7 linked regions of the Homo sapiens genome follow. The protein of the gene in region 3 purifies or fractionates together with the protein of the main gene of each other region. This does not show direct contact. Each region holds a gene or a part of one and is shown on either strand. Other genes may lie near its edges.

What was found.
Region 1: the proteins of HDAC5 (region 3) and TBL1X purify together in Homo sapiens (affinity purification with mass spectrometry; 3 studies listed by BioGRID and IntAct, with this or other methods). This does not show direct contact.
Region 2: the proteins of HDAC5 (region 3) and CSE1L purify together in Homo sapiens (affinity purification with mass spectrometry, with the first as the bait; one study listed by BioGRID). This does not show direct contact.
Region 4: the proteins of HDAC5 (region 3) and SMC3 purify together in Homo sapiens (affinity purification with mass spectrometry, with the first as the bait; one study listed by BioGRID). This does not show direct contact.
Region 5: the proteins of HDAC5 (region 3) and NR2E1 purify together in Homo sapiens (affinity purification with western blotting; 2 studies listed by BioGRID). This does not show direct contact.
Region 6: the proteins of HDAC5 (region 3) and PRKD2 purify together in Homo sapiens (affinity purification with western blotting; 2 studies listed by BioGRID, with this or other methods). This does not show direct contact.
Region 7: the proteins of HDAC5 (region 3) and APPL1 purify together in Homo sapiens (affinity purification with mass spectrometry; one large-scale study listed by BioGRID and IntAct). This does not show direct contact.

The regions. Positions count from the first base shown.
Region 1 is NC_000023.11:9,468,058-9,471,557, forward strand, and holds part of TBL1X (F-box-like/WD repeat-containing protein TBL1X), read left to right. Parts: intron 1-3,500. UniProt on the Homo sapiens protein: F-box-like protein involved in the recruitment of the ubiquitin/19S proteasome complex to nuclear receptor-regulated transcription units. Plays an essential role in transcription activation mediated by nuclear receptors.
Region 2 is NC_000020.11:49,084,312-49,087,811, reverse strand, and holds part of CSE1L (exportin-2), read right to left. Parts: intron 2,530-3,500; coding exon 2,426-2,529; intron 1-2,425. UniProt on the Homo sapiens protein: Export receptor for importin-alpha. Mediates importin-alpha re-export from the nucleus to the cytoplasm after import substrates (cargos) have been released into the nucleoplasm.
Region 3 is NC_000017.11:44,082,142-44,085,641, forward strand, and holds part of HDAC5 (histone deacetylase 5), read right to left. Parts: intron 3,015-3,500; coding exon 2,881-3,014; intron 2,535-2,880; coding exon 2,414-2,534; intron 1,714-2,413; coding exon 1,664-1,713; intron 1,512-1,663; coding exon 1,404-1,511; intron 680-1,403; coding exon 624-679; intron 532-623; coding exon 444-531; intron 1-443. UniProt on the Homo sapiens protein: Responsible for the deacetylation of lysine residues on the N-terminal part of the core histones (H2A, H2B, H3 and H4).
Region 4 is NC_000010.11:110,577,695-110,581,194, forward strand, and holds part of SMC3 (structural maintenance of chromosomes protein 3), read left to right. Parts: intron 1-140; coding exon 141-220; intron 221-933; coding exon 934-1,012; intron 1,013-3,209; coding exon 3,210-3,327; intron 3,328-3,500. UniProt on the Homo sapiens protein: Central component of cohesin, a complex required for chromosome cohesion during the cell cycle. The cohesin complex may form a large proteinaceous ring within which sister chromatids can be trapped.
Region 5 is NC_000006.12:108,172,522-108,176,021, reverse strand, and holds part of NR2E1 (nuclear receptor subfamily 2 group E member 1), read right to left. Parts: intron 1,187-3,500; coding exon 1,099-1,186; intron 1-1,098. UniProt on the Homo sapiens protein: Orphan receptor that binds DNA as a monomer to hormone response elements (HRE) containing an extended core motif half-site sequence 5'-AAGGTCA-3' in which the 5' flanking nucleotides participate in determining receptor specificity.
Region 6 is NC_000019.10:46,676,466-46,679,114, forward strand, and holds part of PRKD2 (serine/threonine-protein kinase D2), read right to left. Parts: intron 2,199-2,649; coding exon 1,931-2,198; intron 992-1,930; exon of another isoform or gene 675-991; intron 1-674.
Region 7 is NC_000003.12:57,262,229-57,265,728, forward strand, and holds part of APPL1 (DCC-interacting protein 13-alpha), read left to right. Parts: intron 1-3,500. UniProt on the Homo sapiens protein: Multifunctional adapter protein that binds to various membrane receptors, nuclear factors and signaling proteins to regulate many processes, such as cell proliferation, immune response, endosomal trafficking and cell metabolism.

The sequences.
Region 1 (3,500 bases), on a different chromosome or scaffold from region 3:
AATTGGAAACCGTTACAAATGGAATTGGAACAAATTTAAAGTTAAGATGGAAGAGAGAATATGTTGAGTTTTCAGAGGAAGTCGGGTACTGCTTCCTTTTCTTGTCTAGGTTTGTTCTTGTCCGATGGGATCAGAGAGATTTGAGATGGGGCATGATAGGCGGCGGGTTCAGGAGAAAGGGAAGCTTTAGAAATGAAGGTAGAAAAGATGCTTGCTTATTGGAACAGTATTTTCAACGTTGAGCTCTGGAATGTTGCAGCCAACTAATGGTTCTCATTTGGGACAGTTTTGTCCCCCACTTTTGAAGGGAGCATTTGCCAATGTCTGGAGACATTTCCCTTCCTGCAACTGTTAAATTAGCAAACAGGTTGAGCCAGCTGGGTGTGGACCTGCATTTTCCTCGTGGAGGCCCTCTTCCAAGTGTCAGTAGGAAAAGGGCTCCCAGAGTGTGGTCCTGCTGCGGGACCTTGGCCCCCACGTCCAAGTGAGCCCCAGAGGTGCCCCAAGCCCTGCCTGGTCATGGGGAATCTGGGCTCCCGCTGAACTTGGGCGCTGGGGACAGCTATGAGGGAAACCTGGTTTGCAGCTAGCTTGCCGTGCACTGACTGGAGCTTTGGGCAAATCAGTGAACTTCTCTAACATTAATTTTCTCATTGAGAGAGGAGGTGGGTAGGAGTATATATATATATATGTAATTATATATATAGGGGTCGGGTAGAGGGAGAGAGAGATTTCCCAGGCTCCTTGTATTAAAGGAGATAGAGTTATTATATTTCTCATTTAGTTTTTATTTATTTGTTTATTTTGAGACAGTGCAATTATTATAGCTAGCTGCAGCCTCAACCTTCTGGGCTTAAGCAATTCTCCTGCCTCAGCCTCCTAAGTAGCTGGGAGTACCAAATGCGCACTACCATACCTGGCAATTTTTTTATTTTTATTTTTAGTAGACACAGGCTCTCACTGTGTTGCCCAGGCTGCTCTCAAACTCCTGGGCTCCAGTGATCCTTCCTCCTTGACCTCCCCAAGTGTTGAGATTACAGGTGTGAGCCACTTTACTCAGTCGACCGACATAGAATTATTATAATGCTTGGAGCCTAACATGCCTTTTTTGTTTGTTTGTTTGTTTTTTCTGAGACGAAGTCTCTCTCACAGCCCAGGCTGGAGTGCAGTGGTGCGATCTCGGCTCACTCTGCCTCCCGGGTTCAAGCGATTCTCCTGCCTCGGCCTCCTGAGTAGCTGGGATTACAGGCATGCTCCACCACACCCGGCTGATTTTTGTATTTTTAGTAGAGGTGGGGTTTCACCATGTTGGCCAGGCTGGGCTCGAACTTCTGACCTCAGGCGACCCTCCCGCCTCGGCCTCCCAAAGTGCTGGGCTTATGGGCATGAGCCATCGCGCCCGGCTAGCCTAACATGCTTATAGTTTCCTGTTTTCTGAAGTTGGGAATTGGGTCTGGAAAGGTATCACCATCAGTCACGATGGTGTCTAGTAGTTTGCTTTGTTTTTTTCCTTATCTTTTCCCTCTTACATTTTAGGGCTGTATCTATATAATTTTATTATTTAAATTACCATATGGTAAGTTTGTCTCTTTGGGTGCATTATGAGTCTTGACACATGCATAGATTGGTGTGACCACCATCATCATCAGGAGAGAGAACAATCTCCTCAGCCCAGAGATGTTCATGGCTCTGTCTCCCACAGTTCCTCCACAGTCACCCCCCCCAGCCCCGAATCTGGGGCACCCAGCCATCTGCTCTGCTCTGGAAGTCTTGGGGATCCCATCTGAATGTAACACATGGTGGAATGCCTTAGGTGAATCCATCCGCTCTTCCAGTACCACCTTTGCCTCCTCTCTCTGATGACACATGAACTTCATGCCTTTGTGTGCTTTGGCCAACCGCTTTTCTTAGAACAGCACATTTTGCACTGTAGATGTTATCACAAGCAAGGAAAAAACAGCTTTGCTCCTTAATGTAAGAAACCACAGTGGAAAAACATCAGGTGTGTTGTTGAGGCTGCTAAAGCTTTGCTCCTTTTTAAAATTTTTTAAAAATTTTTCTGGATACGTAGGTGTATATATTTATGGGGTGCATTAGATATTTTGATATAGTCGTGCAGTGTATAATCACATCATGGAGAATGGGGGTATCCATTCCCTCAAGCACTTATTCTTTGTGTTACAAACAATCCAATTATACTCTTTTAGTTATTTGCTCTTTTTTCTTTTATTTTGAGACGGAGTCTCACTATGTCGCCCAGGGTAGAGTGCGGTGGCGCGATCTCCGCCCGCAAGTTCAAGCGATTCTCCTCCTCAGCCTCCGGAGAAGCTGGGACTAGAGGCATGTGCCACCACACCTGGCTAATTTTTTTGTATTTTTAGTAGAGATGGGTTTCACCATGTTGGTCAAGCTGGTCTCAAACTCCTGACCTCAGGTGATCCACCTGCTTAGCCTCCCAAAGTGCTGGGATTACAGGCGTAAGCCAGCACGCTCGGCCTATTTATTTCCTCTTTGTTCTATGCCAGTTAGTTCTTGATGCCTCATTGTTTCAGATGGGACATTTTCTAATGTCGTGTTTTTGTTTTTGTTTTTTTGAGACAGAATTTCATTGGTGTTTCCCAGGTTGGAGTGCAGTGGCATGATCTCTCCTCACTGCAACCTCCGCTTCCCGGGATCAAGCAATTCTCCTGCCTCAGCCTCCCGAGTAGCTGGGATTACAGGCATGCACCACCATGCCCGGCTAATTTTGTATTTTTAGTAGAGATGGCATTTCACCATGTTGGTCAGGCTGGTCTCGAACTCCTGACTTCAGATGATCCACTCGCCTCGGCCTCCCAAACTACTGGAATTACAGGTGTGAGCAACCATGCCCGACCTCTGATGTCCTTTTAGAGGATGTTACCCTCACCTTTATTGCACAGTCCTACCAAAAGGTACTTCATATGTGAAATGTATCAGAAGGTTATAGTCATGGCTTTAGTTTAAAAACAGGATACATGTTCATTAAGGACCTTTGCCGTTTTCCCAATGGGTTAATCACGTAAATATAAAATAGGCTAAAAATATCAAGTTGTTTTTGCCTTTGTTGTAGAAATAAAAAAATGAATTCCTACATCTGTGTTTCTATGGAGCTGCTAACCTGTGTTTTACTCTGGGCCATATGTCGCTTTCTGTGATCTCATGACGTGGCATGTTTTCTAATATAATCCTTGTCCTGGCATTTTGGTGACTTTTGTCCTGCCTGAGGTGGTCTACCTGGTTGTGTGAAGTCACAGAACCTGTGCATGTCCTACCGTGTAGAGTTAAAGGGCTGGATGAGTGGCCTCAAGCCTTTTCCTCCCTCCCAGGTGTGAAGATTTGGTTTGGAAGATGGACCCTGCTTCAAGGTCTGGGAGGCCATGTTTTTTTCAGACTGGTTAAGGATGACGGTTTTATGTTAACTAAACATTGGGATCAAGTGACAGTTGTTTATGTCCGGTGCCTAGAGTATCAGTTTTCCC
Region 2 (3,500 bases), on a different chromosome or scaffold from region 3:
TAGCTGGGAAATACTGAGTATTTCTAGAAGGCTCAAGGTTTAAAAAATAATTAAAGAGGTTGACTAAGAGGAAGAAACAGTGAGCTGACATGAATGGAGCAGGTGAGTCTGAGAGAGAACTGTTTGGGGTCTCTTTCTCTTAGAAATCAGTAGCAGAGGCCATGCTTGGTGGCTCACACCTGTAACCCCAGCACTTTGGGAGGCCGAGGCTGGCGGATCACTTGAGGCTAGAGTCTGAGACCAACCTGGCTAACATGGCAAAACCCATCTCCATTAAAAATAGCAAAATTAGCCAGGTATGTGGTGCACGTCTGTAGTCCCAGCTACTCGGGAGGCTGAGGCTTGAGAATCGCTTGAACCTGGGAAGTGGAGGTTGCAGTGAGCCAAGATCATGCCACTGCACTCCAGCCTGGGAGACAGAGCGAGACTCCCTCTCTCTCTCAAAAAAAAAAAAAAAAAAGAAAAAGAAAAAGAAACCAGCATCAGAAAATGTTTAGCCCTAGCCTAAAGGAAACATGATCACAAACTACAGGAAACTGAAGAGAAAACTGCCTATCCACCTCCCTCAAAAAAAGAGATTAGGAGCCTAAAAAAATTCTAAAAATACATGTAAAGCCACAGAGTCCAAATTGCAAAAATATTGCTCAAAAGACCATAAATGGGTTAAAAATAGGAAGCATGGGAGAAAAATAAATTTGTCAGCTAAAAATGTATAAAAGCTCTCTTTCCACAAATAACATTTCTAAAATAAATGTTTACTAAGCAGAGCCCCAAATACATGCCAAGCATAAAGGACAGAAAGCTATCTGCTCTTGCCTCCTGAACTCTGCACATCATGTTTCCTCCTCTACTGGAGTCAAAGACTCATCCACCCTTCAACAGATTGCTACCTATCCCTCACACCTAACGTTCGGTTAGGTCATATCTCAGCTTAGAGATCACTTCCTAGAGAAAATCCTTCCCTGACCTGGGTTAAAAGGGCTAGAGGATAAATTGGTGCTCCTCCACTAGGCTGGCGCAGAATTATTTCATTCACTCATACAACCGTACAGAGAAGGTATTACATACTGTGTATTCTTACATACCCTAAAAACACAGTAATGAAGATTACAGACTAGTTAGCCGCTCTCATAGAAATGGACATTAAGGCTGGGCGCAGTGGCTCACACCTGTAATCCCAGCACTTTGGGAGGCTGAGGCGGGTGGATCACCTGAGGTCGGGAGTTCAAGACCAGCCTGACCAACATGCAGAAACCCTGTCTCTACTAAAAATACAAAATTAGCTGGGCATGGTAGCACACGCCTGTAATCCTAGCTACTCGGGAGGCTGAGGCAGGCGAATCGCTTGAACCCAGGAGAGTGAGGCTGCAGTGAGCTGAGATTGTGCCATTGCACTCCAGCCTGGGCAACAAGAGTGAAACTCCATCTCAAAAAAAAAAAAAAAAAAAAAAAGGACATTAAACAACAATAATTACACAATTATACATCATTGTTGGGGGAAGGATAGTGTTGGAAACATACACCCAGATACACACATCCACTCTAGGATTTCTGATCCAGACTGAAAAGATCAGGGAGTTTCTCTGAAAAGTGCTTCCTACAACCCAATGTGCTAGGCTTTTGGGATGCAACAGTGAAAAACACTGAGACTATCTCTAAATTCAGAGCTGGCACCAGGACACTCAACTAATGTAGTGCCTGGTGGATGGATACACCAGCCTGTGGATGGATACAGCTGCCTGTGTCCTTGGCAGTACGTAAGAAGACACGATTTGTGCAGAGTCTACCACAGGCACCCACATTTCACCCCTACCTAGGTGAGCATGCAGTTAATAAACGTTGCATGATCTCTTCTTTGCCTTAAAGAAACTCAATCTAGGGAAGGAAAAAAGGGCTTTGCTACATTTTCTGTAATGAGAAGTTCCATATCAAATTAAGATTACTGTTGGCCAGGTGCAGTGGCCTCTAATCCCAGCACTTTGGGAGGCTGAGGCGGGCAGATATTTGAGGTCAGGAGTTTGAGACCAGCCTGGCCAATATGGCAAAACCCTGTCTCTACTAAAAATACAAAAATTAACCGGGCATGGTGGAGTGCACCTGTAATCCCAGTTACTCGGGAGGCTGAGGCAGGAGAATCGCTTGAACCCAGGAGGGAGAGGTGGCAGTGAGCTGAGATCAAGCCACTGCACTTCAGCCTGGGCAACAGAGCAAGGCTCCATCTCAAAAAAAAAAAAAAAAAAAAAAAAAAATTATTGTTAGTAGTAAACAAGATAATGTTTTTCATTTTGAAATATCTAAACTAACTTACTACTTGGTAAACATTATCTGGTTCATAGACTGTATAACCTGAAGTATAACTCAGAGTGCTCACCCTTACAATCTGAGATTGGATACCTGTAGTCTGCACACCAGGGAAACAGCCTACCTTTCATAATATATTCATTTTCTGAAGAGCCAGGAAGTGTGAGAGCTTTGAAAAGGTTTGTTAGCAGAATCTCAACAAACGGTGCGATTTCTGCAGCTGTAAAGCTATAGATGAAAAAACAGCTTTCAGTCACTACCAACTCTTGAGCTTGTCACTGCAGATTACCCTTGGCAACCACTATGTCACCCTTCTCAGCATAAAACTGAGCCATCTCCCACCACTGACAATTGATAGACAGTTTAGGAAAATAATTTTTTTACATGTGCTCATGTTAGGCTCCTAAGAAGGCACATCGAGAACCAAACACAACTGAACCAAAAAGCCAGCTAAACCCAACAACATCTGAAGTTGAAACAGTTGTCCCTGGTTTATATCTATTACCACTGAGAAAGAACTCAGAATCTCAGGGGACTCTGTCATTTATTTTGTTTTTGGAGGTGGAGCCAAGATTCAGAACTGTTTTCTGCATAAATTCTGGGCCTGAAGATAGGTACTGGCTTGACTCACCTCAAAGGATGTCCTTTCTACCCTTAATTGGCCACTGAGAGTATCTGTACTTCAAGTTCTTGATGAAGGAAAGAACCTAGAACTGTTTTCCATCTCTTACCCAAAGCTCATTTCAAGAAATAATACTGTTGAATAGTGGCCTGAAAGACATGCAGACCATCCATTCCTCTACATTTCATCCTGGTTCAGGCCAGAAGACCTATTTTCTTGGTCCCCAGTGAATTACTTTCATTCGGTTAGGTCATATCTCAGAAATAAGTGACCTTACGCAAATAGCCACATGAAAATAACTGTTACATGATTGTTGCTGAGAACACTACTACTACTATTGTACAGTATTCTCTGCTTTAACTTTTATCTCATAGACCCTGTGAAAATTTTAACTTCCCAAGTTTCCCTCTTTGCCCTGGCTGCTAAGAGACTCCAAATAAAATTTGGAGTTTCTTGGACTACTATATAGGATCCTTTGACACACATTTCTGTTTATTAACTTTATCTCAGTTACTTTCCTTGGCTCCAGTTTATTAAATTGTATTGTCATAATGCACCTATTTTAGTAAGCAGCCTC
Region 3 (3,500 bases):
TCACGCAACAACACCTTTGTTCACAGAAATGGACATCCTCGTTCTTACTACTCGAGGTGGCCATAAAGTACTCATTGTGTTCCTGGTATACAGTCTGCTCCTAATTGTAGGGGGTGGGAGGAAATATCGGCTACTAGCAATGGCGGCAGCGTCACTACCGTTCAAGGTAGGAAATCCCCTTCGTTGCTTGAAACTGCAACGTGAGGGCCAAGATGGAACAGGAGCTAAATGTCTTTCATAGTTGAGGAGGGAGCCCTGTTGGAATGTGACGTTAGTCATCCGGCAGGAGCCCCAGCGCCCTTCCTTCTGCACCCACACCCAGCACCCGAGGATGAGGACGACTGGGGTGCTTGAAGGTGGGGCTGGGGGAGGAGACTTCCTGAAGGCTGACCCTGGTCCTAGCTCTACCCGCCCCTGCCCAGCCCCACCAGCTCACTGCCTACCCAGTCCACGATGAGGACCTTGCCCACGTTCAACTTCTGCTGTAGGAGTTTTGCGGTGATGGCTACAGAGTTGAAGAAGCAGAATCCCCTGAGGAGGGGAGAAAAGGGCAGGAGGTCAGCCTCAGCATGACGTTTGCAAGAGACAGGAAGGGGCGAGGGCAGAGAATCTAGGGCACTCACATGGCTGTGGATTCCTCGGCGTGGTGTCCTGGGGGCCGGATGATGGCAAATCCATTCTGAAGAGGTGCAGGCAGAGGTGAGGGGCAAGATCCAGGCAGGAAGGCCGTGGAGGGGGTAGCACAGGACAGAAGCACAAGCCAGGCAGGGAAGTGAACACAAACCAGAAAAGCAGATCCATATGTTTAATGCACAATTTTGTTGGGGTTTCTTTGTTTTTTTATGGGTTTTTTTGGAGACAGAGTCTTGCTTTGTCACCCAGGCTGGAGTGCAGTGGCGCGATCATGGCTCACTACAACCTTGGCCTCCCAGGCTCAGACAATCCTTCCACCTCAGTCTCCTGAATAGCTAGGACTACAAGCACACGCCACCACACCTGGTTAATTTTTTGTAGAGACAGCGTTTTACTATGTTGCCCAGGCTGGTCTCGAACTCCTGGGCTCAAGCTATCTGCCCACCTCGGCCTCCCAAAGTGTTGAGATTACAGGTATGAGCCACTGTGCCCAGCCTCAACGGACCATTTTGAATGCCAACCATGAGGCTTGAGCAGGCAGACACTATTTCTGCCTCGAGACACCCACGAGAGCACTGGGCATTAGTGTCTTTTTGTTGGTCCCTCATAACCTGAATTCCCAGCTGGCAACTCCTTCCCACCCTGGTGCCTGAGAGTTGAGCTTGCAAAGGACAGTGCCTCACTGAAAGGATCCCAAGGCTGCCCCTGTCCTCTGCCTCTGAGGAGCAGGGCCATGCCAAGGGGCACCGAGGTCACAAGCACACGCTCACCTTGAGCTCTCCTGCAGCCACCTTGAAGGCCAGCTCCAGCAGGCAGCCCACTGCCATGCGCACAGCACTGGAGGAGTGCATCTCATTCCACACGGTGTCACTGTCCACCTGCAGGGCAGGAGAGCAGGTTTCAGTGTGCCCCCTGCAGGGCAAGAACAGGGGAGGGCACCTGGACAGTGGGCCAGCGGCTGTGGTAGGCAGGGAAGAGACAGACCTAGGAGAGCCGCCCGCCCACCCCCACTGCTGTACGCCCTACTCACCCCGATGCCCCCACAAGGCAGCACAGCATACATCTTCTGGCTGATGGGGCCTGCATGGAAGAGGAATAGAGCTACTCTAGAAGTGGCCTCGGGCGGATCACCTGAGGTCAGGAGTTCGAGACCAGCCTGGACAACATGATGAAACCCCATCTCTACTAAAAATACAAAACTTAGCTGGGCGTGGTGGCACACACCTGTAAACCCAGCTACTCAATAGGCTCAGGCAAGAGAGTTGCTTGAGCCTGGGGAGACAGAGGTCGCAGTGAGCTGAGATCGCACCACTGTACTCCAGCCTGGCCAACAGAGCAAGACTGTCTCAAAAAAAAAAAAGGCACCTCAACTGCCACAGGGCTACAGGCTTAGCCACCAAAAATGAGGGCTCAGACCCAAGTACAAGACAGGCCTCTGCAGCCCACACCAGTTGGAAGCTGTCAGTCCTCTGTCCTTGGGGACGTCTTACCTCTGGGGGCAGGTGGCAGGGAGAGAGGAGCATGATAAGCCGTGGAGGAGGGGAACAAAGCAGTCCCCCCAACCGAGCACTTCCATCCTCCTGCACCGCGCCCCACAGCATGCTCTATTTTAGTGGCGCCCTCTGGAGGTGTGTGACGTGATAATTGTGCCACCTCTGCCGCAGCAATGCCCTATGCCCGTGGGGACAACCCTCCTAGCCTGGTCAGGCAGTCTTCCTGAGAGCCCCCATCCCACCCTGACACTGAACATGCCTGCCCGCCCACCCATGTGCCAGCTCACCGAGCAACTTCTTGCTGTCTAGCTTCTGCCGGTTGAGGGGACTGGTCCCATAGAGCAGGGTGTGGTATTCAGAGTGCACTGTCTGGATCTCATCTAGCGTGGCTTTGCGACCTCGGATCCGCTGCCAGGAGGATCAGTAAGAGGGGTCACACAAAGGCACAGCTCTCTCAGAGCCTCTCTGCCCCATAGCCAGGGCACACAGAGCCACTTCCTGGCCTCAGGAGATCCAAATATTTTCAGAAAGTAGATCCTGGCTCTGTCATGACCTTACTCCCGGATCCCCCCCACTCAGCTGGGGACCATGGGGGAAAACAGGCTGCAAGGGATGGAACGGGGTGGTGGGAGAACTGGCCCCGAAGTCTGGGGCTGAAGAGAGGATGAGGAAGAAGCATGAAGAGAGGCTTATCTAACAGGGAAACAAAGGCTGGATTTAAGTTGAGAGCCAGAAGAAGGAGGGGCTCCCTTACCTCGCACTTGCTAAGCAGGCCTGTCTCCTGCAGCCGGGACCAGATGCTCTGGATCCGGCCAGCATGCTCAGGGTGCACGTGTGTGTTCCCGCACATGCACTGGTGCTTTAGCATGAACGTGTCGTAGACCACACCTGGGCCACAGACCTATGTGTCAGCCAGCACTGCTCTGGGCCCAGGATCCCAGCCTGGCTACCATGATCCTCAGCAGGGCTCATGGAGCTGTCTCCAACCCCCAGGTCCAAACACCTCCCCATGGCCACTGCAGCCACCCTGCCACAAACCTGCCCCCTCTCCTCTCCAGCTTTTTTTTTTTTTTCTTTGAAACAGGGTCTCACTCTGTCACCCAGGCTGGAGTGGAGTGTGTAGTGGTGCTATCATGGCTCACTGCAGCCTCAACCACTGCCCCCACCACCCTGGGCTCAAGCGATCCTCCCACCTCAGCGTTCTGAGTAGCTGGGACTATAGGCACTACCACACCTAGCTTTTCTTTTGTTTTTTTTTGAGACAGAGTCTCGCTCTGTCGGCCAGGTCCAGTGGCACGATCTCGGCTCACTGCAACCTCTGCCTCCTGGGCTCAAGCAATTCTCCTGCCTCAGCCTCCCGAGTAGCTGGGATTA
Region 4 (3,500 bases), on a different chromosome or scaffold from region 3:
AGTATTTGTAGTATTATTTTTAGTGAGATAATTGAAATTTTAAAATAAATACTTATGGGCAAGGACTTTAAAATGACCTTATTTAAAAAGTTTTCTCCTTTACTATTAAATTAACTGTGGGCTTTTACATTTTTTCTTAGATCGATAAAGAGGAAGTTTCACTTCGAAGAGTTATTGGTGCCAAAAAGGATCAGTATTTCTTAGACAAGAAGATGGTCACGTAAGCATTTTTCTTTTTTTTAAAAAAACTGAATATGTACTTAAATAGAGATGGGGTATTGCTGTGTTGGCCAGGTTGGTCTCGAACTCTTGGCCTCAAATGATCCACCTCGGCTTCCTAAAGTGCTAGGATTACAGACATGAGCCACCACGCCCAGCCAGCATTTTTCTTTTTCTCAATACGGAGTCTTGCTCTGTCGCCCAGGCTGGAGTGCAGTGGCGCAGTCTCGGCTCACTGCAACCTCCACCTCCCGGGTTCAAGCTATTCTGCTGCCTCAGCCTTCTGAGTAGCTGGGATTGCAGGCAGTCACCACCACACCCGGCTACTTTTTGTATTCTTAGTAGAGACGGGGTTTCACCATGTTGGCAGGCTGGTCTCGAACTCTTGACCTTGTGATCTGCCTGCCTTGGCCTCCCAAAGTGCTGGGATTAGAGGCATGAGCCACTGCGCCCAGCCCGCAATTTTATGATTTCCTTACAAAAGAGTAAAAAGTATTCTTTTACCTGCTTCATATATGAGGAATATTTGCTTCATCTTCAACAAGTCAACATATAGAGGATAAACATAAGAATCAGAAAGTTCTGAGGATGATACAGATGGTTTAATTACTGATCTTTCCTCCCTAATGCTATCAACCAAGGGGCTACTCTACTCATTGCTTAATGGTGCTTTAAAATTATTTATCGGAAAGTAATTTCATTGTTTGTCAACAGGAAAAATGATGTGATGAACCTCCTTGAAAGCGCTGGTTTTTCTCGAAGCAATCCTTATTATATTGTTAAACAAGGAAAGGTAAAACAATTGTATGTCCTTTTTAAGTAGAATTTGTTTTCTGAGTAATTCTTGAGTGATGAATTTGGTTTATTGATTTGAGTGGTTAAGCTGAAGCAAAAATGGCCATATTCTTTTACATGGCCATAAAGTACCAAATAGGTCCATTGCATGTTGAGATGGAAGTATTTCAGCATATTAAGTGGATCTTGTTTTCCTAGTGACTGGTATTACTTACTGAGGTGAAAGTATGGGAAGACATTATTGGCTTATGAATGTTGCAATAATTAAGAATATTGTAGGAATTCTATAAAAATCACATTTGAAAAACTTTCTAAAATTAATATTTTGTGTTACCTAATTATTTATCACAATTAAAATACTGAAAAGCTAACATTACCAGAAATCTGCCATTTTGCCACATGTTATTTTCCCTAATAGGGATTATGTTTTTACATTTTTTCAGCAGCCAAACTACAAACTTTTTTAGCTGATTGTTCTGCTCTCTTCTCATATACTTTCACTTTTTTTTTGGACTAGGGAAAATTCTCAAAGAATATTCACTTATTTTATACTGTAGGCCTTTTTTTCTAGATATGTATTGGAAAGTTAGCATTTAGAAGAAGTGATTAGGAAGAATATGGAGTTTCAGTTTTAGAAAATGTGTTACTGGAAGAACACGTTTTTTTCCGATTTAACTATTTGTGGGAGATAAATTTTTTTAAATGGAGGCTGATTTGAAAGAGCACTTTTCTGAGATCCGTCTGCTGTCAATCTAGGCCCTTTTACTTCATTTCAGTTTCTGCCCGTATGCCATCCTTGATTGCCTCATCTGAAAGCATTGCCGTCCCCTCAACCCTATGTGCTTTATTTCCTTAATCTGTTTTATTTTTCTTCATAACACTTACACTGTTAGGATAGTACTTATTTTCTGTCTTTTTCCATTAGAATGTAAGCTCCATGAGGGTGGGACCTTTTCTGCTTTGTTTGCTCTTTTCCAGTGCCCAGCAGTGGCACATATGTTGTAGCCATTTGAAAAATAATTTTTAAGTGAGGAAATTGCATGAACCAATATGTATAATTGGAGCGTTCAATAATGAGGATCTGAAGGATGATTCTTTGATGTAGATACTTTTGATAGACCTATTTTCGTAGAGATAATTTCAATTTTTTAATGCAGTGATATCATTTTTGACATTTAGGGATACTTGTTATATATTAAGTTGCATGGCACTTAAGTTGTACCATTCTCTCTATATTTAAAGCATACCATTTTTGTCATATCATTAGCCTTCTGTATCTGTAGGTTCCACATCTGCAAGTTCAGCCAACCATGGATCAAAAATATTTAAAATAAATAAAATTTTAAAACAGTACAATAAGAAATAATACAAATTTAAAAATACAGTAAAACTATTTACATAGCATTTACATTGTATTATTATAATTAATCTAGATATTAAAGTATATGGAAGGATGTGCATAGGTTATATGCAAATACTATGCCATTTTATATAAGGGACTTGAGCATCCTTGGATTTTGGTACCTGCAGGGGGTCCTAGAACCAATCCCCATGGAAACTGAGGAAGAATTGACTTTTAATATATTATTGTAGCTTTAAAAAAAAGTGTAGTCAGTGATGGTTTTCCCTTATAAAAATACTTTGTTTTTTGAGAATGGAGCTCATCTTTTATACCTTATCATATTGACTAAGAAAAAGATGGTGGTGTGAGATACTCCTTCACTTGTTAGCCCTATTCATAAAGGAGAGTTATGACCGTAACAGTTGTATTTGGATTTTATTTGGTAAATTTCATTTAAGTAAAGGAGACATAGATATGTAGGCATGCGTACTATACAAATGACATTAGCCAAATCATAATCTGTTTAAAACTTGGCATGTCCCAAATTCAAAAGTCTGAAATACAGAATGCTCTACAATCTGAAACCTTTCGAGTGTGGACATGACATTCAAAGGAAATGCTTGTTGGAACATTTTGGATTTCAAATTTTTGGATTTGGGTTGCTCATCTGGTAAGTATAAATGCAAATATTCCAAAACTTGAAAAAATCTAAAATCTGTAACACTTCTGGTTTCTAACCATTTTGCATAAGGGATACCCAACCTTCATGTGTATTAAAAACCTTTCAACGTGGAGTTCTTCTTCTTAAACGGAGGCTACAGCTATGTAATGATTATTTTTCTAAAAATTTTAGATCAACCAGATGGCAACAGCACCAGATTCTCAGAGATTAAAGCTATTAAGAGAAGTAGCTGGTACTAGAGTGTATGACGAACGAAAGGAAGAAAGCATCTCCTTAATGAAAGAAACAGGTAAAATAAATGTGATTCTGCCTTATTTTTTTGTTGCAAATTACTGTTTTTGTGACAGAGTGGCTCCATGATGGGAATATAGTAGGTGTTTAGTATATGACAGCATTAGATAATGCTGTTATTAATAAAAATTGAGAATCCATAACACCAATGATGTTAGTAGCTTTTAAAAA
Region 5 (3,500 bases), on a different chromosome or scaffold from region 3:
AGCTTTTGGCCTCCGAGGGCCGCAGGAGGAAAGGACCCGAGCCCCGGGATTGCTAGGGAATGGAACGAGGGAGAACCCGTCTCCGAGTATGCTGGAGAAAGGCAGGGGAGATGTGACAATTACCACCAACAGTTTAAACAAACAAATTAATTCAGGGCAATCTTCGGCCTGCCGAGCTTGACAACTTGTCAATACACAAGTTCAACAGGTTGGACGCTCCCTCCGGCTTCCTGCGCCGCAGAGGAAGGGGCTCTCTCTCCTCCTGGAGCTGCCACCCGGCCCGGGCCGCCTCACAGCAAAACCCACTCGCACCCTGTTCCCAGGCCCCACGGTGTCCTCCAGCCCATTACCCTCGCCCCCTGCCTGGGCCTGGGGCGCCCTCGACAGGCTGCAGCGGGGGACGCAGCTCGGACCGTGCTCCAGGCCCAGGAAGCACTCTGACGTCCTGGTTCTTGCTGTTGCGCGCTTAAGAGCCTTGGGAGAGCTGGGTGTCCGAGGCACCCACGGGCGTTACCCTGCCTCTCCAGCCCCCTTTCCCTCTTTTCTGTAGAACAGAGAGAAGGCCCTGGACTCACATCGGCCCAATGGCCGTACTGATTTTGGCATCTTGGAGAATTTGCACACGGGCTGGAAATTCCGCGTTTTCGCGTCTCTGCCCTCCCTTTTTCAACACACCGCGAACTTCCAGCCTGTATGATCTCCTCCCCGTGAGACTATCCAGATTTTAAGATCCTGGGGCAGGCTAGCAGGCTTAAGGGTGGCCACGAAGGGCTGCAAAGAGGGATTAGGACCGGAGGCAGAAAATGCGCGCCGGTCCCCTGGAGAGTGGGGTCCCCCCAAGCGCTGCCTGTGTGGAGATGACTGTGGGGCGCAAGTTCCTGATGTGGGCATGGGTCTTGCCCTGGGGAATTCTAGGGGTCGCCAGCGGCTCCTGCTGAAAGACGGGAAGGATACGACTGAAAGCCCGAGGCCAATTCCCAGCATCTGGAAAGAAGCGCTCCGGGGTTGATTTACATGCATAGGAGTGCCATGTATTTTCTGTACATATAATTTACTTACTACTCAATCAACATTGGAATAAAGGGATGCACTGATTACCGTCTTTGTTCATGTTGACTTCCAAACACTTCTTCAGCCGACACGCCCTGCACTGGTTTCTGTGCGTCTTGTCCACCGGACAGCCTCCCTGGAACAGAGAGCAGGAGGTCAGCGGTCCCCAGGGCCTTTAGGCTGGAGACCCGGAGCCGGCACCCGGGCGGGGAAACGGTGTGGAGGCGCGACCTTGCCCGGCCGCAGGCCCTGGAGCCCCGAGCCTGGGCCTGCAAAACGCGAGGGCCTTGGGCATGAGCAGGGCCAGATCGAGAAGGGGCTGGGACGTCCCAGGCTACTTCAAGAGGGCCAGTCCCGGACCCCAAGAAAGCGGACAAGGGGGAAACGTCCTTCTCCAAGCAGGTGAAGCTTAGAGAGCCGGGTTTGGCAGACCCCGCAGGCCTGCGGGGCTCTCGCTAGGGGAACTTCCGCCAGTCGCGGAGTGGTGGAACAGGGACGAGACTTCAGGACCGAAGACAGCGACTTGGCCCCAGAGAAAGAGGCCACTAAGTTCCTTCCGTTAAGAGCTGGCTTTTGGGTCAGGATTCACACCATACCGCCCTCCCACCAACGATTCTTTCTGCTTTCAGTACTTGAGTCTACCTCTTTCTGCCACTTTCTGGGAGAGCCCGTTTATCTATCAGATAAATCTCTCCCATTTATTCTTCACTCTCCTATTACCTCACTTTTGCTTTTGTATGAAGCCAACCTTATTATCAGCAAGTTGAGAGTTGCCTTAAAGACTAGCCTCGGCCCAGGTGCATAGAAACACAGCCCTTCCTGGAAGGTGAGAGTTTAGGAGGGCAAGGCCTAGAGAAGATGAGGGTGAAAAAGGAAGAGCTCAAGTCTTGAGCAAAATATAGAAATGCTCACCATGTAAACAGGACCAGGAAGGTAATGTGATGGACTGTCAGACTAAATGATAATATGGGCTCAGACTGTTAGCATAGTAACTGAAAAAATAAAGGTAGTCACTTCTTTAGAAATATTTATCTGAGATGCATGAGAAATTAGATGTTTACCTAATGCAATTTTCTGTAAAAACATTAGCCATTGAAAGAGGAAATCTACAGATAAAGTTTCCTTTGGAATTTATTCAGTGTTAGATGTCATTACCGAGGGGACATATGCATAGATACATAAAGAGTCATGTGCATGAGTTTTATACACAGAAAATATTTAAGACATTGTGTGCTCTCCTATATTTATAGAAGTTGCTACTGTTAGATTTGTAGTGAGAAGAAAGATAATAAATGTATTTTTATTTTGCTTCATAATCTCAAAAATTCATATACTCTGGAGTTGGAGTAAGTATGTTTTTCTTCCCCCTGAAGCCCTTTAGGGGAAAATTACACATTCGAATGCAGTTTTATGAGTTCACACTTCTCCAATTTAAATTATGATGATTTATTTAAAATAAAGGTGGGACAGATGTTCATATCCATTTCTAAATGTCCTCATTACTGTTAATAATAAATTGGAATATAATTTAATCCTAGAATAAGAGAGAAAGGAGATAATTTTTGGGTCCAAAGTGAATTATTTAGGGCATCTTTGCTGGCCAATGTAATAGTTCATTGTAAACAGGTTTTTTAAAACTTGTTATTAAATGTAATTATATATCTATCCTCAGATGGTATCTTTCCAGTATTCTTATAAGTATGCAAATGCAAAATGGAAACCTTCATAAGTTCTTAAGTGTGTCTTCAAATCAGATCAAATGTATATAAATATCTAGCGCCAGAGAGAAGGATAAACGCCTCAGCTCTGATCATTTACTCTCCTTGCAAGAAGAACACCAGGCCTGATGAGTCTATTATCAGTCCTTTACAAGCACTTGGACTGATATCAATATGCTTGAATTGATAGCCATCCCCTTCTAAAAGATCAAGCACAACATCAGAGATCTTGATTTTCCAATTCTGTTCACTGCATAAAAGCAAAAGACAATCTAAGTAGAAGTTGGTTCAAATCTGACAACCCGCAGTAATCGCACAATCCTGTGGAGTTATTGGGATACAGTCCTATGCGTGTAAAATGTGATGTGTCCATATGGTGAAGCTAGAAACTGATACAGTAGCCAATTAAACAGGTAACAGGGCTAGAGAGCTCAAAATTTATCTCAATGCAAATATCTTCTGTTTTTGTGGTTAATCCAAAACTATTAGAAAACAATATGAGCAGACATGACTTCAGAAAAAGATGTCAGAACAATTCACTAGCAGCAGACAATATATGCATGTGTATACATGTACCCTATATATATCAATTAGTGAAAAGTGTTTTACTATTTTGTTACCAAAGGATGACTGCTGACTAATGCACCCTCAGGGATCTTTCCACAAGTGAAATGGAGGACTCTGTACTGAGGGTCTGAGTCGCTGATAAGGAGAGGGCAAAGTGTAGGACCA
Region 6 (2,649 bases), on a different chromosome or scaffold from region 3:
TTAGTCACCATTGCCTGCAGAAGGCTCAGAGATAGGCCTGTTCATTGTGAAAAAGAGGACTAGCGAATGTCAAGCTTCAAGACAAGCCAGCACTCATCCGAGGCTCTCTCCTTGATGGGAAGCCATGAAGGACAAGGCTTCACTGTATGAACCCATCCGAGGAGAGGCCTGGTGCACACAGGCACCCTGCTCCCGTCAACACCCACAGGATTCTGTGATCCTCACACAGGTGCAACCACACTTAAATTCACTTGTGCACACTCGATGCACTTTTACTGAGGGACTTCTGAGTGGGTCTCAAAAGACAATGCTGGCGGGGTGTGATGGCTTATGCCTGCAATCCCAGCACTTTGGGAGGCTGAAGCGGGCAAATAACTTGAGGTCAGGAGTTCAAGACCAGCCTGGCTAACATGGCGAAACCCTGTCTCTACTAAAAATATAAAACATGAGCCAGGCATGGTGCTGTGTGCCTGTAATCCCAGTTACTCGGGAGGCTGAGGCAGGAGAATCCCTTGAACCCAAGAGGTGGAGGTTGCAGTGAGCCGAGATCACGCCACTGCACTCCAGCGTGGGTGAAAGAGCGAGACCCCACCTCAAAAAAAAAAAAAAAGCCAGTGTTGAGCACCCCCAATATTACTCCAGGACTCAAGTCAATCCACATTCTCACTGCTTAGGGCCCATGCTCTTAGACCACCACCAAGACCTTGTCTTGTCCTGCACCGAGCAACCTCCGTGTCACCCTGCTCCACCTGCTCCATGAAGCCGCACCCTCCAGAGAGGACCCTTCCCCTTTCCACCCTTCGCGGACCACTCAATGAGCTACCCTGCACCTGACCCCTTCTGTCCAAGTCATCACAGTATTCCCAGAGCTGGAACAGTCAATGCCTGGCACATCGTGGGCACTCAACATGTTGAATCAATGGTTACAAATACATGAATGTACTTGTTGAATAAATGGTTATAAATAAATGAATGAATGATCCCCCCCCTTCCCATACTCCATCTGTCTTCCTGAGCTCCCTGGCTCCAACACAGGTCCCTTGTTCTCCTGGCTTCTGACACACCCCAGTATCTTAGCCCTGCCTCTGGCCCTCTAAACATGCCATCCCACACCCAGCCTCAAAGCTCCAGGCCTTAGGACTTAACTTTTCCAAGCAGGGAAAGTTACAGACCCATTCCCAAGTAGGTTCAAGTCACCAGGCCCGGTGCCACTTCATCAGGCCCAGCCACAACACCAAAGCCCCAGAATGCAGAGTGCAATGTCTGCCTCAGTCCTGGCTCCCTTCTCCTCCCCACTCCCATCCACTCCCAGCTTCCAGGACTCAGGGTCAGCCCTGTTCCTGGACCTCTTCGGAAACCCTCCACGGCCACGTCCCTAGACTGGCTCCCTTGGTCACTGAACCGACCCCAGGCTTCAGGCCCATCTTCACCCAAGTCACGGCCCCAGTACACAGCAAAGTAGCCATGCCCTTGTTTCTCAACCCTACCCACCGGTGCCTCCTTTTTGCAAGGCTGACCCTTTTGGGGTCGTAAACCCAAAGGCTCCAGGTCCCAGCCAATGCCTTGGGAGGCTCAGCCCCTTCTCCTGGTCACCGCAGCCCTTTGGTACCCTCAAGTCCAGTCCCTTTCCTGGTCCCACCCTAGACAAGCCAAGTCTCACTCAGCCCCCCTAAGGTTCCAAGTGTCCTCAGCGCTTCTGGGGCACTTGGTTTCCAGCCCAAGTAACCTAGTCTAGGCCTGAGTCCCAGCCCATCTTTTACAGGACGGCTCCTCCTGTAGCCACATCCCTCCAGTAGGCCCGCCCCAGCACTGGGCTCCACCCCCAAGGTGCCAGGCTGTTTCCGGGTCCACCCCCCTCTCATGGCTCCGCCCACTTCTCCAGCCCCACCCCACAACCCACCCGCCCATGGGGTAGGCGGGCCCCAGGCACCTCCAGCTGAGATGTGGCTCCAGGGGCTGGCCGGGTACATGAAGGCGGCGTTCTGGATCTGGTCATTGATGTCCTCATCCTCGTTGAAAGGGAAGGTGCCGCTGAGGCTGACGTACATGATCACGCCCACTGACCACATGTCCAGCGAGCGGTTGTAGCCCTGGTTGAGCAGCACCTCGGGTGCCAGGTAGGCCGGCGTGCCCACCACTGAGCGGCGGAACGACTTCTCGCCGATGATGCGAGCAAAGCCAAAGTCACACAGCTTCACCTGCAGAGGGCAAGGGATGGAGGCTCCACCAGGTGATGGAGCCGCACCCACCCCAGCATCCCCACCACACCACCCTCCATGGTATTCCAGAGAAAGCTGGATGCTGGTTTGAATCCAGGCTCCTTGGCTCACTAGCTGAGCAACCCTGGGCAGGTGACTTCCCCCCTCTGTGCCTCAGTTTCCCCATCTATAGGAAGAAGAGCAGAAGAGCACCTATCTCAGAGGACTGCCATGATGGTTAGTGAATTAAACCATCCAAAGCCCACAGGACAATATTTGGCATTCAGTTGGTGCACAATAAATGCTAGCTGCTGCTATACCTCTGCCACCTCCAATGGGTCGCTGTTTCCTCTTTTGAATAATGCAGATTTTTTTTAATAGCCTCAAAATATACATGATTGGGGCGTGGTGGCTCATGCCTGCAATCTCAGCACTTTGGGAGGCCAAGGAA
Region 7 (3,500 bases), on a different chromosome or scaffold from region 3:
TTGGCTATGCAGACACTTTTTAGTTTAAGTCCCATTTGTTTATTTTTATTGCCTATACTTTTGAGGTCTTAGGCATAAAATCTTTGCCGAGACCAATGTGCAGGAGAGTTTTCCCTTCATTTTCTTCTAGTGTTTTTTTTTTCTATGGAAAATAACCTTTTTTTTTTTTTTTTTTTTTTTTTGAGACAGACTCTTGCTCTGTTGCCCAGGCTGGAGTGCAGTGGCACAATCTTGGCTCACCGTAACCTCCACCTCCTGGATTAAAGTGATTTTCCTGCCTCAGCTCCCAAGTAGCTGGGACTACAGTTGTGTGCCACCATGCCCGGCTAATTTTTTTAGTAGAGACAGGATTTCACCATGTTGGCCAGGCTGGTCTTGAACTCCTGACCTCAAGTGATCCACCTGCCTTGGCCTCCCAAAGTGCTGGGATTACAGGCATGAGCTGCCACACCCAGCTGGAAAAAGAACCTTTAATAGAACAATTATTGAGAATATCGTACTAACAAAGTTTCTCAAGAGACTAATTAGAGCTAAAATGGTGAAAGTAGGATGATCTTTGTTTTTCGTTTTTTGTGGGTACAAGGGGTGTGTGTGTGTGTGTGTGTGTGTGTGTGTGTGTATGCATTTTTTTTTTTTTTTCCAGATGGAGTCTTGCTGTGTCACCTGGGCTGGAGTGCAATGGCGCGATCTTGGCTCATTGCAACCTCCGCCCCCTCGGGTTTAAGCGATTCTCCTGCCTCAGCCTCCTGAGTAGCTGGGTCTATAGGCATGCGCCACCACGCCCAGCTAATTTTGTATTTTTAGTAGAGACAGGGTTTCTCCATGTTGGTCAGGCTGGTCTCAAACTCTCGACCTCAGATGATCCGCCTGCCTCGGCCTCCCAAAGTGCTGGGATTACAGGTGTGAGCCACCTCGCCCAGCCAGGTGTATATATTTATGCAGTACATGAAATATTTTGCTACACTTATGCAATGCGTAATAACCACATCATGGAAAATGGAGTATTCCTTCCCTTAAGCATTTATCCTTTGTATTAGAAACAATCCAATTATACTCTTTTAGTTATTTTTAAATGTACAATTATTATTGACCGTAGTCCCCCGTTCTATCAAATACCAGGTTTTATTCATTCTATTTTTTTTTTTTAATCATTAACCATCCTCCCACCCCCCATCCCCACACTACCCTTCTCAGCCTCTGGTAACCACCCTTCTGTTCTCTGGCTCCATGAGTTCAATTGTTTTGATTTTTAGATCCCACAGATAAGTGAAAACATGCAATATTTGTCTTTCTGTGCCTGGCTTATTTTGCTTAACATAATGACCTCCATGTTCCATATATCTTATTGCAAATGACAGAATCTCATTCTTTTTTATGGCTGAATAGTACTCCATTGTATGTAAGTACCACATTTTCTTTATCCATTTTCTTTATCCATGTATCATCCATTCAAATGACAGAATCTCATTCTTTTTTTCTGGCTGAATAGTACTCCATTGTGTGTGTGTGTACATTTTCTTTATCCATTCATCTGTTGTTTTTTTTTTTTTTCCATTCATCTGTTGATGGACACTTAGGTGGCTTCCAAGTTTTAACTATTGTGAACCGAGCTGCAGCAAACATGGGAGTGCAGATGTCTCTTCAATATACTGATTTCCTTTTTTTAGGTATATACCCAGCAGTGGGATTGCTGGATCATATGGTAGCTCTATTTTTAGTTTTTTGAGGAACCTCCAGACTTTTCTCCATAGTGGTTATACTAATTTACATTCCCACCAACAGTGTACAAGGGTTCCCTTTTCTCCACATGCTTCCCAGCATTTGTTATTGCCTTTTTGCTATAAGCCATTTTAACTGGGGTGAGATGATACATTGTAGTTTTGATTTGCATTTCTCTGATGATCAGTGATGTTGAGGACCTTTTCATATGCCTGTTTGCCATTTGTATGTCTTCTTTTGAAAAATGTCTATTCAAATATTTTGCCCAGTTTTAAATCAGATTAAGGTTTTTCCTATAGAGTTGTTTGAGCTCTTTGTATATTCTGGTTATTAATCCCTTGTCAGATGAGTAGTTTACAAATATTTTCTCCCATTCTGTGGCTTGTTTCTTCACTTTGTTGATTGTTTCCTTTGCAGTGCAGAAACTTTTTAACTTGATGAGATCCCATTTGTCCATTTTTGCTTTAGTTGCCTGTGCTTGTGGGGTATTACTCAAGAAATTTTTGCCCAGACTGATGTCCTGGAGAGTTTCCCCAATATTTTCTTGTAGTAGTTTCATAGTTCAAGGTCTTAGATTTAAGGCTTTAATCCATTTTAATTATATTTAAAAAAATTTAAAAAAAAATAAAAAAAATAAAAAAAAATTTTTTTAAAAAATATTTTTGTATATGGTGAGAGAGAGGGGTCTAGTTTTATTCTTCTACATATGGATATCCAGTTTTCCCGGCACCATTTATTGAAGGGACTGTCTTTTCCCCAATGTATATTCTTGGTGCCTTTGTCAAAAATGAGTTCGCTGTAGTTGTGTGGATTTGTTTCTGGATTCTCTATTCTGTTGCACTGGTCTATGTGTCTTTTTTTTTTTTTTTTGCCAGTACCATGCTGTTTTGGTTACTATAGCTCTGTAGCATTGTAATTTGAAGTCAGGTAATGTGATTTCTCTAATTTTGTTATTTTTGCTCAGAATAACTTTGGCTATTCTGAATCTTTTATGATTCCATATACATTTTCAGATTGTTTTTTCTATTTCTGTGAAGAATGCCATTGGTTTTTTGATAGGGATTGCATTGAATCTATAGATTGCTTTGGGTAGTATGGACATTTTAACAATATTGATTCTTCCAATCCATGAACGTGGAATATGTTTCCATTTTTGGTGTCCTCTTCAATTTCTTTCATCAGTGTTTTATAGTTTTTTGTTTTTTTTGTTTGTTCTTTTGAGACAGAGTCTCATTCTATTGCCCAGGCTGGAGTGCAGTTGCATAATCTCGGCTCACTGCAATGTCTGCCTCCCAGGTTCAAGTAATTCTCATGCCTCAGCCTCCCAGGTACCTGGGATTACAGGTATGCGCCACCACCACCTGGCTAATTTTTGTATTTTTAGTAGAGATGAGGTTTCACCATATTGGCCAGGCTGGTCTCAAACTCCTGGCCTCAAGTGATCCACCTGTCTCGGCCTCCCAAAGTGCTGGGATTACAGGCCTGAGCCACTGCGCCCAGCCTGTAGTTTTCATTATAGAGATCTTTCACTTTGGTTAACTCCTGGGTATTTAATTTTATCTGTGGCTATTGTAAGTGAGATTACTTTATTTATTTCTTTTTCAGATTGTTCACTGTTGGCATATAGAAATGCTACTAATTGTTGTATGTTGATTTTGTATCCTGAAACTTTACTGAATTCATCAGTTCTAATAGTTTTTTGGTGGAGTCTAGGTTTTTCTAAATATAAGATCATCATATCATCTGCAAACAAGGATAGTTTGACTTCTTCCTTTACAATT